Regions from separate parts of the Homo sapiens genome. Here region 1 is linked to region 2. Evidence: fine-mapped expression QTL. A gene starts in region 2. The other region holds a variant in brackets. All regions are shown on one strand. Distances are between the middles of the regions. Region 1 has its middle 11 kb from the start of PEX10. Region 2 holds the start of PLCH2 (phospholipase C eta 2).

Evidence for each region.
Region 1: its variant is fine-mapped to the expression of PLCH2 in whole blood (TOPMed, PIP above 0.99).

What each region holds. Positions count from the first base shown.
Region 1 is chr1:2,419,448-2,427,765 of GRCh38, forward strand. It overlaps a transcript of PLCH2 not described here. Among named protein-coding and RNA genes, the nearest start is that of PEX10, 11 kb to the left of the region's middle. The variant T/C (reference allele first, on the strand shown) is at 4,337.
Region 2 is chr1:2,472,271-2,480,588 of GRCh38, forward strand. It overlaps PLCH2 (phospholipase C eta 2), which reads left to right and starts at 4,019. Exons shown (of 22, transcript NM_014638.4): 1 at 4,019-4,442; 2 at 6,206-6,352; 3 at 7,464-7,707; 4 at 7,913-8,042. The coding sequence starts at 4,319.

The sequences.
Region 1 (8,318 bases), 53 kb before region 2:
GTCCACACTCTGAGGCCCGGGCCTCGGCCGTTGGTCGGGGGGGTTTTCCACTTGTTGTTGACAGAGGCGCCTCCCATGGCAGTGGGGTGCAGGGTCTCCCCTGGGGATGTGAGGCCGGTGAGGGCGGAAGGGGAGCAGGCAGGGGCCCGGGGCTCTCCAGATCTACCACCCCACCACCTCACTGGCTCTTCTTGCCCGGAGCTCAATGCAGGGATCCCCGTGCCTGACCCTGGCATCCACAGACCCGGGGGCCAGCTTTGAGGAGGCGCTGCTGGCTCTGGTGGAGGTGGTGACATGGGGCTCTGGAGACTTGGGGGCCGCTCATCCTTCTTCCTGTGGGCTCCACCATATTCATCCTTGGGGGATTAATCTGAAGCTGTCCGTAGAAGCTGGACTGGGACCCTCAAGCCAGCCCTGGGCTGGGGCCAGCCAGGCCCTTTCTGCCTCGGAACTGCTGCACCTGCTGCCCGTAGTCGGCTCTTGCCAACTCAAAGTTCAAGCATAGCAGGCCAAGTCCCCCCCCCACCCCCAGGCAACCCCTTTGTGCGCTCCCCCCACTACCCCCTCCTGTGCTGCCTCCCCAGTAGCCTGGGTACAGCTATGGGGGTGGGGGCAGGCACAGCAACAGTAACCTGCCTCCCCACTCCCCGCCATCTCTGGTCATTGGTCAGGAGCTCATCAGTGCTGAGTTAAGGACTCAGACAGGCCCCCCGCCCCAGCCCCTACCTCACATCCCTCTCAGCTGACCCCAACTCCTCCCCAAGACTTGGATCCCAAAGGAGCCAGTGTCTGGGGGGCATCCAGGCAGCACCTACCTCTTGTCCTTCCTCCCGCTGCTCGATTCCACTTTCAGCCCCCTGCCCTGTGATTTCAGGACAAAGCTTCCCAGGTGCAGGTCTGAAAGCTTCCACCTCCTTCGAGAGGTGGGTGTGGGGGCCTGTGGGGCCCAGTGATGCTGGCAAGGGGAGAAGGTCCAGGCAGGGGCGGGGTTGCGGATCCACAGTGGGATGCGGGGCTGAACGGTTATGTCCCGGTAGGTAGGGGCTGCAGAAAGAGCCCCGAGGGCTGGGGAGTCCCGGAGCTGGACCACAGGAAGGGCCTCAAGTCCGCCTGCCAGGTCCAGCTTCTCAGGACCCCAGGGCTGGGGCACACTCTTTGCACCCCGCTTTACAGATGAGGAAACTGAGTCAGAGAGGGAGAGTTTAAGGGCAGGCTTCAAGCTGACCTCTGACCCAGAGACCCCCATTTTGAAAAATCTCCTCTTCAGGCCTCAGGCCTGGAGGGCTGTGGGAGTCGCTCCTCTCTCGATTGGAGGGTGGAGTGAGTGATCGATCGATTCATTGCCTTTACCCACATCAGTATCTCTTCCCCCTTGGGACTCCTTCTGAGGAGCGTTGAGTGTGTATCTCGTTTTTTGTATTTTCCAGAATGCTGTGTTGTTCTGGTGCGAGTATTTTAATCACTATTAGTGGGGTGCAAATGTTTTGGCCTTAGTATCCCTTCACACTTTTTTTTTTTTTTTTGAGACAGAGTCTCACCCAGGCTGGAGTGCAGTGGTGCGATCTCGGCTCACTGCAACCTCTGCTTCCCGGGTTCAATCGATTTTCCTGCCTCAGCCTCCTGAGTAGCTGAGATTACAGGCATGCGCCACCACGCCTGGCTAATTTTTGTATTTTTAGTAGAGACGGAATTTCACCACGTTGGCCAGGCTGGTCTCGAACTCCTGACATCAGATGATCCACCCTCCTTGGCCTCCCAAAGTGCTGGGGTTACAGACGTGAGCCACTGCATCTGGCCCCAACACTCTTAGCAGCTGTTGAGAAGCCCAAGGAGCTTTGGTTTTGGGGTGCTGTCTGTAGTGTGTGCTGGAGCAGGCTTGCACGTGCTCACCAGAACCTACGGTAGCATCTCCAGTAATCTCATCAGCTGGTTGTTGGACACAACCATTATTCAAATCAAATTAAAGTAATTAAATTATGTAAAACACAGAAATACTATAAAAAGCAAAGGAAATAAATACTCAAAATGTATTGCTTCCTAATTATTTCTAGCTTACTGTGATCCACGCTGTTATCTGGGTGCAGTCTGTGTGTGTCTGTCTAGTGGAAATGCCGTATGATACTGTCCATCTCTTCCCCACTCTGTGCTCTGTGGGCTCAAGTGGGAATATTTACACCACATGTTTACACCACCTTCATAAAAAAATATGAAAATATTCATGAAGTCTTATTGAAAATAACAACGGGCCAGGCACAGTGGTTCACACCTGTAATCCCAGCACATTGGGAGGTCAAGGCAGGAGGATCACCTGAGGCCAGGAGTTTGAGACCAGCCTGGCCAACATGGTGAAACCCCGTCTCTACTAAAAATACAAAAATTAGCTGGGCGTGGTGGCGCATGCCTGTAATCTCAGCTACACAGGAGGCTGAGGCGGGAGAATTGCTTGAACCTGGGAAGCAGAGGCTGCAGTGAGCCAAGATCACGCCACTACACTCCAGCCCAGGCGACGGAGCAAGACTTTATCTCAAAAAAAGAAGAAAAGGCCAGGCGCAGTGGCTCACGCCTGTAATCCCAGCACTTTGGGAGGCTGAAGGAGGAGGATCACCTGAGGCCAGGAGTTTGAGACCATCCTGGCCAACATGGAAACCATGTCTCTACTAAAAATACAAAAATTAGCCGGGCATGGTGGCAGGTGCCTGTAATCTTAGCTACTCGGGAGGCTGAGGCAGGAGAATCGCTTGAACCCAGGAGGTGGAAGTTGCAGTGAGCCGAGATCGCGCCAGTGCACTCCAGCCTGGAGGACAGTGCAAGACTCCACCTCAAAAAACAAACAAACAAACAAAAACCCATAAACTAATGACATGTTAATAGAAATAACACGTTAACATTTTATGAAAAATACTTTCAAAACAAAAAAATCCAGTGAGAAGAGGGACGTGGCTTTGCAGTTTTGCAGTCTCTTGAATGTTTGTCTGCATCTGCGTTGCATCTGTCGCAGTGTGTTTTGGTTGAAATCAGTGAAGAGATCTGGCCTCACAGGGCTGAGCCGCCTTTTCAGGTAATCATGGACACTCTTCTCTGATGGTACACCCGGACTGGATGAATGGTAGAGTTTCTTACAGGTTGTTGCGATAACAGAATCTGAAACCGTGCCAATGGACTTTTTGTATTGTTACATTATCATCTGTTGTGTTACATTATCATCTGTTGGTCTGTTTTTACTTTGTTTTTTGTTTTTGTTATGTTTTGAGAAAGGGTCTTGCTCTGTTGCCCAGGCTGGAGTGCAGTGGTACCATCATAGCTCACTGTGGCCTCAAACTCCTGGCCTCAAGTGATCCTCCCACCTTAGCCTCCTAATGTGTTGGGATTACAGGCATGAGCCGCTGTACCTGGCCCTGTTTTTCACTTTGAGTGGAAATTTACCTGTGCATAATTTTGGAAGACCATGTTTTGGTATTAATAATTTGAAAAATATTGGTTTACTGAGTTATGCAGATTTTTCAAATCTTGACACGTTTTATTAAATATTATCCCAAAATCACATTACTATCACCCCGATCTCACGATAAAAGCCTTTAAATATTTGGAAGCTGATAGACTCACAGTGATGAATACAAGTTTTCCAAAATGCTGATTTTTACCTAAGCCTGAATTTTATTATTGGCAACAGATCCTGCAATTTGCTGTTTTGTGTTGTTTTGGAGAGGGTTTTATTTAGTTTTTTTGTTTGTTTGTTTGTTTGTTGTTTGTTTGTTTTAGAGACAAGGTCTTGCTCTGTCCCCCACGCTGGAATGCAGTGGCACCATCACAGTTCACCGTAACCTCGAACTCCTGGGCTGAAGCAATCCTCCTGCCTCAGCTTCCTGAGTAGCTGGGACCACAGGCACATCCCCCCACACCCAGCTATTTTTTTTAAAGAGATGGGATCTTGCTCTGTTGTCCCTGCTGTTCTTGTTACAAGGCCACCAGGTTGGTGTGCCCTCTGCACAGTAACCAACCGATACACGGAGACAGCAGGGTTTGCAGCAGAGAAAGCTTAATGATTGCAGGTGCCAAGCAAGGAGATGGGAGGAGACCCTCAAATCCACCTCCCCTGGAGTTCTGGGCTGGGGTTCTTAAGGAGATTATGGAGGGTGAGGGGCTGGAGAAGCTGGGGTCACTGACTTGTTGGGGTAAGGGGGATGAAATCAGGAGGTGGAAAATGCATTTGCTGGTGAGTCAGCTCCTGTGAGGTCCTTCCCACCAGCTGGCATCAGTAATTTTACTGTTATGCAGGACCTGAAAGAGCATCTCAGATGGAAATCAACCTTTTACAATGTTTAAGTTGTTCTCTCTA[T/C]GGTAGTTAGGGGAACTATGATCTTGGGACGGGGTCTGTGTGATTCTGGGGCAGTAGGCAGCAACAGTTATGAGGAGAGGTCAGAGAGCCAGCCCACCTCGTCGTGACGCTGCCTGCACCACCAGCTTAGTTCATTTTCCCTTCTCCCCCTCCCTTCTTCTCTGAATAATTTTATAAAGTTTACAGGGGTGATTTCAGCCTCAAACCCTGTCTTCAAGTGGTGCTCCCACCCTGGCCTCCCAGCATGAGCCTCTGTGCCCGGCCTGTTTATTTTTAAATTTCATTTTTAAAAGTATATATTTGACAGATTATAGTTGTATATATTTATGAGGTAGATAGTGATGTTATGATTTTTAAATACAATCATTTCAGTTTAAATCAAGCTAATTAACATAACCATCACCTCAGATATTTACCATCTTTTGTGGTGAGAACATTTGACATGTACTCTTAGCAGTTTTGAAATGCACGAAACTCTATTATTAATTATATTCACCATGCTGCACAACAGAACTAAAAAATTCCCCCAAACCACAAAACATACCCTTCCTGTCTAACTGAGGCCTGGCACCCTTTGGCCATCATCTCCCCATTCCCCAAACCCTGGCCTCTAGGGACCAGCTTTCTACCCTGCTTCTATGAGCTCAGGTGTTTTAGATTCTACATATAAGTGAGAAGATGTGGTATTTGTCTCCTGTGGTTTGGCTTATATCACTTAACTTGATGTTCTCCAGTTCCATCCATGTTGTTGAAAATGACAGAATTTCTTCCTTTTTAAAGGCTGAGGCCAGGTGCGGTGGCTCACAGCTATAATCCCAGCACTTTGGGAGGCTGGGGCAGGCAGATCACTTGAGATCAGGAGTTTGAGACCAGCCTGGCCAACATGGCAAAACCCCATCTCTACTAAAAATACACAAAATTAGGCCGGGCGCGGTGGCTCATGCCTGTAATCCCAGCACTTTGGGAGGCCAAGGCGGGCGGATCACGAGGTCAGGAGATCGAGACCATCCTGGCTAACACAGTGAAACCCTGTCTCTACTAAAAATAAAAAAATTAGCTGGGCATGGTGGCGGGCGCCTGTAGTCCCAGTTACTCGGGAGGCTGAGGCAGGAGAATGGTGTGGACCCGGGAGGCGAAGGTTGCAGTGAGCTGAGATTGCTCCACTGCACTCCATCCTGGGCAACAGAGCAAGACTCCGTCTCAAAAAAACAAAAAACAAAAAACACAAAATTAGACGTGCGTGGTGGCGGCCACCTGTAATCCCAGCTACTCAGGAGGCTGAGGCAGGAGAATCACTTGAACCCAGGAGGCGGAGGCTGCAGTGAGCGGAGATCGCGCCACCGCACTCCAGCCTAGGCGATAGAGTGTGACACTCCGTCTCAAAAAAAAAAAAAAAAAAAGCTGAATAGTATTTCGTTGCTTGGGCGCATGCACACACACACATATTTACACACACATATGTAACACACACATACATACACACATATACACACACATATATACACATGCACAGATACACATATACATACACACATATACACACACATACACCCCCCCACACACATTTTCTGTATCCACTCATCCACTGATGGACACTCAGGCTGATTCTGTAACTCGGCTGTTGTGAACAGTGTGGCAGTGGACATGGAAATGCAGGTCTCTTCAACACGTGGATTTCATTTCCTTTGGGAGTATATGCAGGAGTGGGGTTGCTGGATCTGCTCTGCTGGTTTTTAGGTGGCAGGCTTTAGACAGGGTCTGCCTCTGTTGCCAAGGTTGGAGTGCAGTGGCATGATCTTGGCTGACTGCAATTTCTGCCTTCTGTGCTCAAGTGATTCTCCTGCCTCAGACCCCCAAGTAGCCGGGATTACAGGCACGTACCACCGCGCCTGGCTAATTTTGGTGTGTTTTTTTTTTTTTTGTAGAGATGGAGTTTCACCATGTTGCCCAGGCTGGTCTGAAACTCCTCAGTTGAGCAATCCACCTGCCTTGGCCTCCCAAAGTTCTGGGATGACAGGAGTGAGGCACTGCGCTGGGCTCATGCATTTTTGAGGAAATACCTATGCAGCACACGGCCGGCAGCACCACAGTGTCTCAGCTGTCTTTCCAGGAAAGTCCTGCTCCCCACTATACTGTGGGTCCCCCGGCTAATTCAGCTGGAGTCCCCGTCGCTCGAGAGCCTCCTCCCAGGAAAACGCCCTTTGCTGCGGCAGCTTTCTGTTCTCCCTGGCTCCCTGCACGGAACTGAGCTTTGGTACAGTTCATCATTTGTGCTGTTTCAACAAAGACCTTCTTAGGGAAATGGCCTCTTCTCTGCTTTAATTCTGAGCACGCACTGGTGAAGGACACTGTATCTGAGCCGAGGCCCAGGGTGTCACCCATCAGAGCCTTTCACCATCTGTGCAGATGTCAGCGCGGGGAAGGGACACCTCCTTTACATAAAAACAGCTTAGACCTTGCAGGCTCCTGGAAGATTCTGAGGACCCCAGGGTTATGTGGGCCACACTCTGGGGAGCAGTGTCTATGGCCCCGTGTTTGGCCAAGCACCCCGTTCTGATCTTTACTTTCTCCACCTGGCACTAAGCTTCCCCTTCTTGCTTCTAACACTGAGTGGGGCTCCGGGGTGTCCCCCACCCCATGGCCTCCCAAAGTCCCTGGTTCGGGGCTGCCGTGAGCAGCCTCCTGAGTCCCCATGGGGTCCTGGGGGCCTTTCCCTCCGGGTCAGAGTGGCGGAGTCCCCGGCCTACACACACGAGCTCGGCCCAGTGCTCCCACGCTGACCTAGGGCTGGCCCCTCGCGGTCTTCCCTTCCCTTGTCAAACACCCCTCCCTCTGTCTCCAGAGTGCCGGCGAGCTGGGCGGGCTCCACTCCCTCCATGAAGCTGGCCCCTGAGCGCAGATGTGCAGGCTGGCATTCCTGCCCGCTGTGAGCATGGAGGGGCCTGGCCTCAGCCTCGCACTTCCTGACACGGTTGTGGGGTCGGGGCTGCTGGGTTCTTTGTCTCCCTGTGCGGCCAGGCCAGCAGGTGGGCGTAGCCAGGCGGGCTCCAGCAACCCCACCAGCTTGGGGGCAGCGGCTGAGCTTGCTGGGGCCTGTGGCTTCTCCGGGGCCTTAGGTCTGTGTTCCCTGCATCCGCTAAGTCCAGGGGTGGGAGCAGGGCCTCACAGAGGGGCCTTGGGCTGGGAGAGTGGGGAGGACTGTGGGCAGCCAGTGGCCCCTGGCAGAGTGGCAGAGGCCCAGCCATAGGCTCACTGGCATGGGGCCTGGTCTGCCTCCTATGCCCAGGACGTCTTGGCCGGGGGTCTCCATACCTGGGACCCACGTTCAGCCTGGAGACGGAAGTCAGGGTAGCAGGGAAGTAGCAGGAGGTGGCCTCTGTGTGACAGCGGGTGCCGGCGGCTAGGGGCCCACCGGGTGGAGCTCCTGGGGGCGTTGAGGAGCTGGGCAGTGGGCTGCAGTGGGGCGCCCTGGGGCCAGGAGGGCAGCTGGGGCAGGCAGGCTGTCCCCTCACCCTCTGGGTCTCTCGTGGGGGCCCGGGGCCGCAGGTCTGGGACGAGTCAGGTGCTGGGGGCAGCCGAACCCGCCCCAGCTCAGCCGCCCCTGCTGGTGGTTTCTCCGGGATAGGGTCCTGCCCTCTCTGGGCCTCAATCTCTCCCTCCTGAGAGTGGACTCTCTTGTGGGCTGGGTGGCCAGTGGGGCCTCAGGCCAGGAGGGAGAGGGAGCCCCTCTGTGACATCTTTCCTGGAGAGGCTGAGGCTCCCACTTCTACCTGCCCTCAGGGGGCTTCCTGAGCCAGGGGATACCAGCCAAGGGTGTGGCACCCCACTTCCTGGGCACTGCCGCAGAAGGTGGGAGGGAGGATGGGAGGATGTCAGAGGAGCAGGCCGGGGCTTGTGGGGGCCTCCGGTACCTCTGCTGGGAGCTCGCGATCCAAGGGACACAGCGTGAGGGGCCACCGCAGGTATTGAAACAGAAGCAGCC
Region 2 (8,318 bases):
CCCGTGCGGCGCCAGTCCAGGGGCCCGGCTGATCTCCAGTGAGCACTGTGGCTGGGGCAAGGTGGCCACTTCCTCCTCCCTCCCGTCCACCCAAGCACAGCCTCAGCCCCTCCTGCATGCTGGGCCGGCCCTTGGGGGCAGCACGGGAGGGGGATGCTGGGGCTGCGAGGGGCAGGGGGGCGCGGAAGAGCCAGGGCCAGGAAGGGCTGCAGGAGCATCTGGCCCTCATGCCTCACTGCTGCTGAGGTCCTTTGCTCTCCTAGCCCTGGGATGCGGCTGCCTCAGGGACTCTTGGTGGCCCTGGAGGGTGGGTAGGCTGGCCTGGGGGCCATTGGGACAGCAGGTGACGGTCAGGCCAATGCCAGCCGGGCCCAGGCACAGCCCTGTGGGGGCTTCAGAGGGAGACACGGGTGGGCCCAGGGAGGTCCTTTGAAATGTCCTGCTGAAAGGCAGCAAGCGTCGGGAGAGGAGGGGGCTTAGAGGCAGCCAGGGCCACCTCTGGACAGGCCTGGAAGAGGTGGGGCCCCTGCCCGTCCCGTACACGCTCGTGAAGGGAAGAGGTTGGTGGAGGGGCATGTGCAGTCCCCATGCCCCTGTCGTGGGAGGGGCTGCGGTACCCAAAGCTGCCCCGGGTGTGTGTGTACATGCCGGGAGGCCTGTGGGTGTGATTTGTGGGTTTTGTTGGAAGATTCATTATTTTCCAGCCTTCCCCAGGGGAGAGGCGGAGATGCTGAGCCACCGCTGGCCCCTTGTTGATGACAGCCGCGAGGCCCATGCTGCCTGCTGTGTTAGGACAAGATCGATCTCCGCCATAAAAACAAAATTAAGCCAACACCGCCCTGGCTTCTGACAGCGCGCGCTCTTCCTCTAATCAGCTGCCACCCGCCCGGTTCCAGCCTTGGGAAGAAAGGAAGGGGCTGCAGGAGCAAACCTCTCACAGTGGGGAAACTGAGGCACTGAGACAGGGAGGACAACCCAAGGTCGGGGGGCAGGCCCAGGACCCCTGCTTCCCAGCAGCCACCAGGGCCAGGCAGTCAGGGTGGGCCGGTGCAGCCCAGGTGCGGGGGCTGAGCCCAGGGGATCACGGGCGCATTCCTCTGCGTGTCACCGTGGGGCCCGCAGAGCCCTCCCATGCACTCTCCCCAACTGGGGTGCAGCCCCGTCTGCCCGTCTGTCCACCCATCCGCCCATCTGGGTGCATCTGTGTGGGAGGCTTCTCCAGGCCCAGGGCTGAAGCCGGCCAGACCCTTGAGAGCTGGACCCTGGACACCAGTGTGGACACTGGCTCCCGTCACCTCCTCAGAGCAGGCCTGGTGGCCTTAGCTGCCTCTGTCCTGCCCGTCCCTCCCTGTCCACCTGTGTCCAGCCAGCGCCTGCTACGTGTTGGATCATGGCCTCACAGGGACAGAGCAGGGAGGAGGACTTCGAGGTCCCTGCCCCAGGGATGTCCCGGGGTCAGGCAGTGCTCTGAGGACTGGGGAGCCCCACTGTGCTGTGCAGGGACCTGGGGGAGCAGCAGGTGAGCCAGGGCCCTCCTCTCCCCGACGGAGCCTATATCTGCCCGACCAGGACTGCCGGCCCTTCCCAGTCTGGCCTCTGGTGTGGGCCCACAGCCAGGTGCATTGCTACAATCCCACCTGAGCTCCCACATCAGGTGTCCTGGCTCAGGCTCACGGGAGGGGCCGAGGCGGCCTGGGGGTGGGTGTGGACCATGGCTGAGGGCTGGGCCCCTGTGTGGAACCACAGAGCAGAGCGTGGCTTCTTCGGCCTCCCTGTGGGCTTTCAGGATGGCCGGGCCCTGGCTCAGGGCAGGCAGGGTGAGCATGAGGGCCCGTCAGTGCAGGCTGTGGGGCTGGGCTCGCCTGCCGGCATGGGGGTGGGGCAGCCCCCTCCGTGACCTTGTGTGGGGGCTGGGCTGGGCCCTGGGCCGGCTCACAGGCAGCACGTGGGGAGGGGTTCTTAAGTCTCTGGGCCTGGGCCCCTGCCACGTCTCTTGGCCCGGGGCACCCCCGGCTTCACGCTGCAGCTGCGGTTCTGTGTCTGCCTGAGTTTTGGAGGGGAGTGGGCGGTCCCTTTGGACCTCAGGGCAGGCAGGGCAGCCCCCGGCAGAGGCCTGTGTCAGGAAGGGATTAGCCAGGCCTCCACCCGCCTGGACAGTTGAGGATTCCAGCTCTGCTGCTGAGGAGGTCAGGGGGCCTGGGGTGCAGGAGCCTGGGACCCACGTTGTGGGGCTGGGGCCAGGCACTCTATGTGTGGCTCCTCTCAGAACCCCTGCCCAGGCAGATGGCGGCCTCCAAGCCCTAACCCCAGCTGATGGGGGATCAGCTAGTGGCTGAGAGCTCAAGGGAGGGAGGGAGGGAGCAGAGGCCCAGCCTTGGGGAGCTTCAAGGAGGGATGGGTGAGAGACGGGAGCACCCCCAGCTGGGGCCAGGCCCAGGGTGAGGGAACAGCAGGTGTGTCCCAGGCCAGGAGGCCTCTGAGGTGCAGGAAGGAGAACTGGACCCCCTGGGTCAGAGTGGAAGCCCGCAGCAGCCCAGTATGAGGTGGGCAGGGGCCCTGGGCCAGGGCTATGGCCGTCTGGTCTGTCTCCAGGCCCTCAGGCCACCTCCTGGCCCCTGCGCTGCCCCTTACACGGTGGCCTTCCCCGAGGCCCTGTCTTCCTGAGGACGCCCGGGACTCCAGCCCCTCTCCTCTCCCTGCAGCTCATGGCTCCCTAATCTAATTCCACGGCAGAGCCCAGAAACGCCTGCTGACCTGCTTCCGCCGAGAGCAGCAGAGCCTGTGACGGGGCCCCTGGTGGGGGCCTGGGTTGGCTCTGTGCTGACTGCATCTGATCTGGCTGGGTGTGGCCCTGGTTGTCAGTGGTCAGCTGGAGACGCATGGCCATCTCCTCAGGGACTGCCACCTCCCACGCCTGACCTTGGCCCCGGGGCTCTGCCAGGATGCCCAGCCCTGGCACCTCCCTGTCCTGGGCTCTGCAGGCCAAACTCCTCCCCTGGTATGGGGGGAGGCGAGCAGCTGCCCGGAACCTTCCAGTCCTTGTTGCTGGAGCCAGTAGAGCCTGGGCAGTGGGTGGGAAGAAGGGCGGGGTTCTCCCCAGTGTGGTCACGAAGCATGGGCATGGCCAGGACACAGGTGGCTGGTGTTCAGCCGGGGTCTGCCCACCTCCCATTCCCACAGCTGCCCCTGGTGTCCCGGCCTGGACTTGGGGATGGGAGAGCCTGTGCTGTCCTGTAGTGCGGGGCCAGTACACAGGGTGGGCTGTGTGGTCCTGGTGGCAGTGGGACCTGGAGTCCTTTCCTCAGTGGGAGCTGAGACGGTGGGGTGGGTCCTCCTTGGGCGAGGCCCCTGTCCAGGTCAGATGGCTGTCATCCCTGCAGGGCAGAATGTGGGGACAAACGTGCCCTGGGCATGGGGCCACCTCCTCCGCCACAGCTCGGTGACCGTGGAGAAAGGTCAGGCTGGGGCTGCAGCTGCATGAGGGAGACATGGAGAGCCCAACCCAGGCTCAGGGACCCACATCCTGGGCCTGGGCTGGGAGTTGTCGCTGTAAGGGATCCGGCTCGGCTCCCCTCTCCAGCCACAGGGGCTGGGCGCTGCGGGGATGAGGTGAGCTTCTGCCCCTGCTCTGGGCCACCTGCCTCTGGACTTTGGGGATCCACTCAGAGGTCCTCATAAGTAGGGATGCGGGGTGAGGGCAGGGACCACTCCAGGCCCAGCCTCGGCATCTGTGGTGGGCGCACAGCGGGGAGGCCCACCCCACACAGGGTCCTCGGAGGACAGTACCCTGCAGGCCTTCCGGTTGCGTTCTCTGGGTCCCAGGAGGGCCCTCCCGTTGGTCCTGCTCTTGTCCCGCAGCCCTGACCTGGGTCTGGTGGCCTGGGGCCTTGGGAAACTCTGTTGCCTCCCCAGTGCCCTCCCATCCCCAGCTGGGAGTTCCCTCGGCCTAAATCCTCCACCAGCTGGGCTGGAGCTGGGATTAGCACAGGGATTGGGCCTGGGGCTGGGCGGGGCTGAGGTCCTTTGCTCCCCCAGCCTTGGGAGGCGGCTGCGTCAGGGATTCCTTGGTGGCCCTGGAGGGTGGATAGGCTGGCCTGGGGGCCATCAGGACAGCAGGTGACGGTCAGGCCAATGCCAGCCGGGCCTGGGCACAGCCCTGTGGGGGCTTCGGAGGGCCCTGAGGAGGAGGAGGAAGAGGCAGAGGAGAGAAGGCCCCACGGAGGTCCTGTCGCCAGCGCTGCCACTGCCTGACCTCCGCTGCCCGAAGGCCGGTGGGCCTCTGTGGCCTCCGTGAAGCAGGCCCGGCTGTCGTCAGGCCATGTCTGGTCCATGGCCCTCCCCCGACAGCCGGACCAAGGGAACGGTGGCCTGGCTGGCGGAGGTACTCCTCTGGGTTGGAGGGAGTGTGGTGCTGTCTTCAGAGTGGCAGCTCGGCCCCCTGGGTAAGAAGGGGCAGGCGAGTGGCCTGGGCTGAGTGCTGGCCCTGGCCAGGTGACTGGTGGGTGGGGGCTGTTCCTGGAGGTGGGGGAAGCCTGGGCCTCCATCCCATCCTGCACTCGCCTCCCCTGTCCCCCGGGTGCTCTAGGGATCATGTGGGTCCAGCAGCGTCGGCTGGCCCTGCCCCTCAGCCGCTCAGAGGCGTGCTCAGCACACCTCGGTCTCCCAGGCACCTGCAGGGCCTGGGGGCTGAACCCAAGGGGGCGAGGGGGGATCTCAGGTGGCTCCAATGCTCTCATTGAAGGGGTGCCTTGTGCTCTGGGGGTCAGTGGTGCTTGCAGCCCAGGCGGCTGGGCTGGCATCCTGGTGCCGGACATGAGGGCCTTTGCCGTTAGGAGACTCTGCAGAGGAGACTGGCTGGGTATGGCTGGGAGGGTGGAGTGTGTGTCTTGTGGTGGCCTGTGGAGGGCCCCGGTCCGGGCTGGCCTGCCAGCTCTCTGTTCCAGCGGCAGACAGGGTCCTGTCCAGGCTGCCCTGTTGCAGGCCTCTGCCCGCCCCCTGCCCCTGTGTCCTGCCTCACCCCTCTCCTAAATCCCTGCAGCCATACCTGCGTCTTCACCTCCCATGTGCCCCGGAGAGCCCAGCCCCCCATGCCATGGCTTCCATCCCTTCAATTCCCCTCTGCTCGTGATCACGTAGTAGCTTCCCCAAGAAGGCCCGGCCAGTACTGCCCTTGGTCCTCTACAACGCCCCCGCCAGGGTCCCTCAGCGTGCAGACCTGGGGTGGGGATTAACGTCTCTGTGCTTTAGCAGATGGTACCTCTGGGACCCGGGCTTTCTGTGAGCAGGTGTGCAGGAACCGAGGGGGTGAGACCAGTCTGTTCCTGGGCTGGGACAGCTGACTCTGGCCTGGACTCCCTGGACCCTGCAGCCCCCTCTCCTGGGACAAGCTACAGCAGGAGGCTGAATGGAGAGAGGAGGGGAGAGAAGGAGCGAGGCAGGCAGCCTGGGGGAGGGGAGGGGAGGGGTTGTGAAGCTCGGATCCGGCACCACAGCCTCCCAAGTCCATACTGCAGTGCAGGGCGTGCGACGCAGACATTCATGGCACCATTCGTGGCGCTTGTTGCACATGAGGGGTGGGGGCTTTCCTGGAGATGCCCCAGGCAGGGGCACAGGCACTCAGGAATTCGACCGCTCCCAGGAGCCACCTGTGGCCAGGGGCGGGGGCAGGGGCATGGGGTTGCTGCCTGCTAGGCCCACCCCGCCCCTGACAAGGGGCCTCCACTGCACTATGGCCCCAGACAGCCAGCCCAGCCACCTCATCTGTCTTGCCTCGTGCCCGGCCTTCCCATTGTTGAGTTCTGTGCTGGCTCCGTCTGAGTGGTAGCTCTCGGGGCCCCAGGCCCAGCGCCGGTTACCAGGGCTGCTAGGACTGGTCCAGGAGGTGGTGGGAGTGGCAGGTGGCCGAGCAGGGTGGGGAGCAGGGCCCTCAGTTCCCAGGACCATCTGGGGAGGAGTGGCAGGGCCCAGCTGAGCTGTGTGACCCAGGCAAGCCGGCACCTGGGGTGGAGGTGGCCCTGGGCTCTGGCCTTTGCCCTGTCACTGGCAGGGCGGTGTGGGCGGGGCCGGGCGAGGTGAGGAGTGGCCGTGCCTCCGCTGACGGCCGTGTTTCTCCCGTGAGGAGTGGCCGTGCCTCCGCTGACGGCCGTGTCTCTCCTGCGAGGAGTGGCTGTGCCTCCGCTGACAGCCGTGTCTCTCCCGTGTCCAGTGGAGCGGTGCATGGGTGCCATGCAAGAGGGGATGCAGATGGTGAAGCTGCGTGGCGGCTCCAAGGGCCTGGTCCGCTTCTACTACCTGGACGAGCACCGCTCCTGCATCCGCTGGAGGCCCTCACGCAAGAACGAGAAGGCCAAGAGTGAGTGGGAGCCCTGGGGTGGGGACAAATCAGAGTCCCTGGGGGGACACGACGGTAGGGACCCTCCCAGGGCAGCCACTGATGGCTGAGGAGCAGCGAGACCCTAGGCCTGGACACCTCTGGGCTCAGTGGCCTTGGGGATCTGCAGTGACCTCGGGCTGTGGGGTAGGAGGGATCCAGGCCCCCTGCCCGCCTGGCAGAGCTCCCTGGGACTCAGTGAGGACCGAGTAGCACTGTGCCCAGCCCTGTGCTGAGTGCTGGGCTGGAAGGAGGGGCACAGCATAGTCCATCTAGCTGGGGAGGTCACAGCTCCCCATAAACAGAAACGACCCCCACAGAGGTATGCTGATGGATGGGTATGGGTGCAAACAGTGGCTCAGGCAGCCACTGGGCATGGCTGCTGGAGGGAGCAGGGGCCACCCGAGATGGAGGCTCTGTGCAGGGGGTGGGTGGGGAGAGTTGAGGCACACAGGGAACGGGTAGGGTCCCACGGTTTGGGGAGAGACATGGCAGTCCTCAAGGGCTGGGATCAGGGCGCAGCCAGGGTTTCTGATGGCTTTGCTGATGGTCAGGACCCAGGCATGCCAGGCAAGGCCTCAGCCCAGCAGTTGCCAAGCGTGTAGCCACTTTGGGCCCGTGGAGAGAGTCGCGCTGCGGAGCCCCCAGGGGGACCTGAGGTCACAAGAGCCTCGATGCACCTGAGCGCGGAGCTGGGGGTCCCTGGAGCCGCTGTCCCCACCTGCGGCGCTGGAGCCCTGGAGGTGTCCAGGGGCTTCCTTGGAACGTGGAGACGTGCTGGTTAAACGTGGAGCCCCGGGCCAGCCGGGCACTGGGGGCTGCAGGTGGAGGGAGGTGGATGCTCTCCCTCGTGGGGGCGTGTCTTTTCCACAGGAAAGGGAAAGGGGGAGGGACACGGGTCAGCAGTGGGGGGCTGTGCAGTCTCGCAGATCTTCACCCTTGGTTCTTGAACTCTGGACCCTGAGCCCTGCCGAGGGTCCCGCAAAGGTGGGCAAGGAGCTCCCGGCTGCTTGGTCTCCGCAGTGTTGGGGCTGCCAGCAGGGGGACGCTGGGCCCCCGGGGACCTGACCCGTGCTCCCTCCCCACCCCGCAGTCTCCATCGACTCCATCCAGGAGGTGAGTGAGGGGCGGCAGTCGGAGGTCTTCCAGCGCTACCCTGACGGCAGCTTCGACCCCAACTGCTGCTTCAGCATCTACCACGGCAGCCACCGCGAGTCGCTGGACCTGGTCTCCACCAGCAGCGAGGTGGCGCGCACCTGGGTCACTGGCCTGCGCTACCTCATGGCCGGCATCAGCGACGAGGACAGCCTGGCTCGCCGCCAGCGCACCAGGGACCAATATCCTTGGGCACCTATCGGGCAATGCAGACCCAGGGACCGGCCCCTTGGCTGCTCACCCTGGGGGGGCCTGTCCTTTGCCGGGTCACACACTGGGGAAGTGGCCGGTAGGCTGGGGTCCCCTATTCCTTCCTCCCTAGGCCAGAGGGTGGAGGTGTCAGGGCTGGGCCCATGGATCGCTGTTGGCCCCTAACTCGGCACCAAAGTGGCTGAAGCAGACGTTTGACGAGGCCGACAAGAACGGGGATGGCAGCCTGAGCATTGGCGAGGTCCTGCAGCTGCTGCACAAGCTCAACGTGAACCTGCCCCGGCAGAGGGTGAAGCAGATGTTCAGGGTGAGCTGGGGGGAGCCCTACCTGGGCTCCAGAGCCAGGGCTGCACGGGGGCTGTGCTTGTGTGGCTGGGAGCCTGCCAGCCCTGACTGAGCTGGAGGGGACCCTGGCAGTGCCCTCAAGCTGCACAGAGTAGCTGGCTGCTGAGGATGGGGCTGTCTGACCAGCCACCCCACAGCCTATGGCAGGCAGGCAGGTGGGTGCCCAGGTGCTGCCTCTTTGCAGCTGGGCCGGGGGCTGCTCTGCCAGCTCTGGGGAAAGTGGTCGGGGCACCTGGCA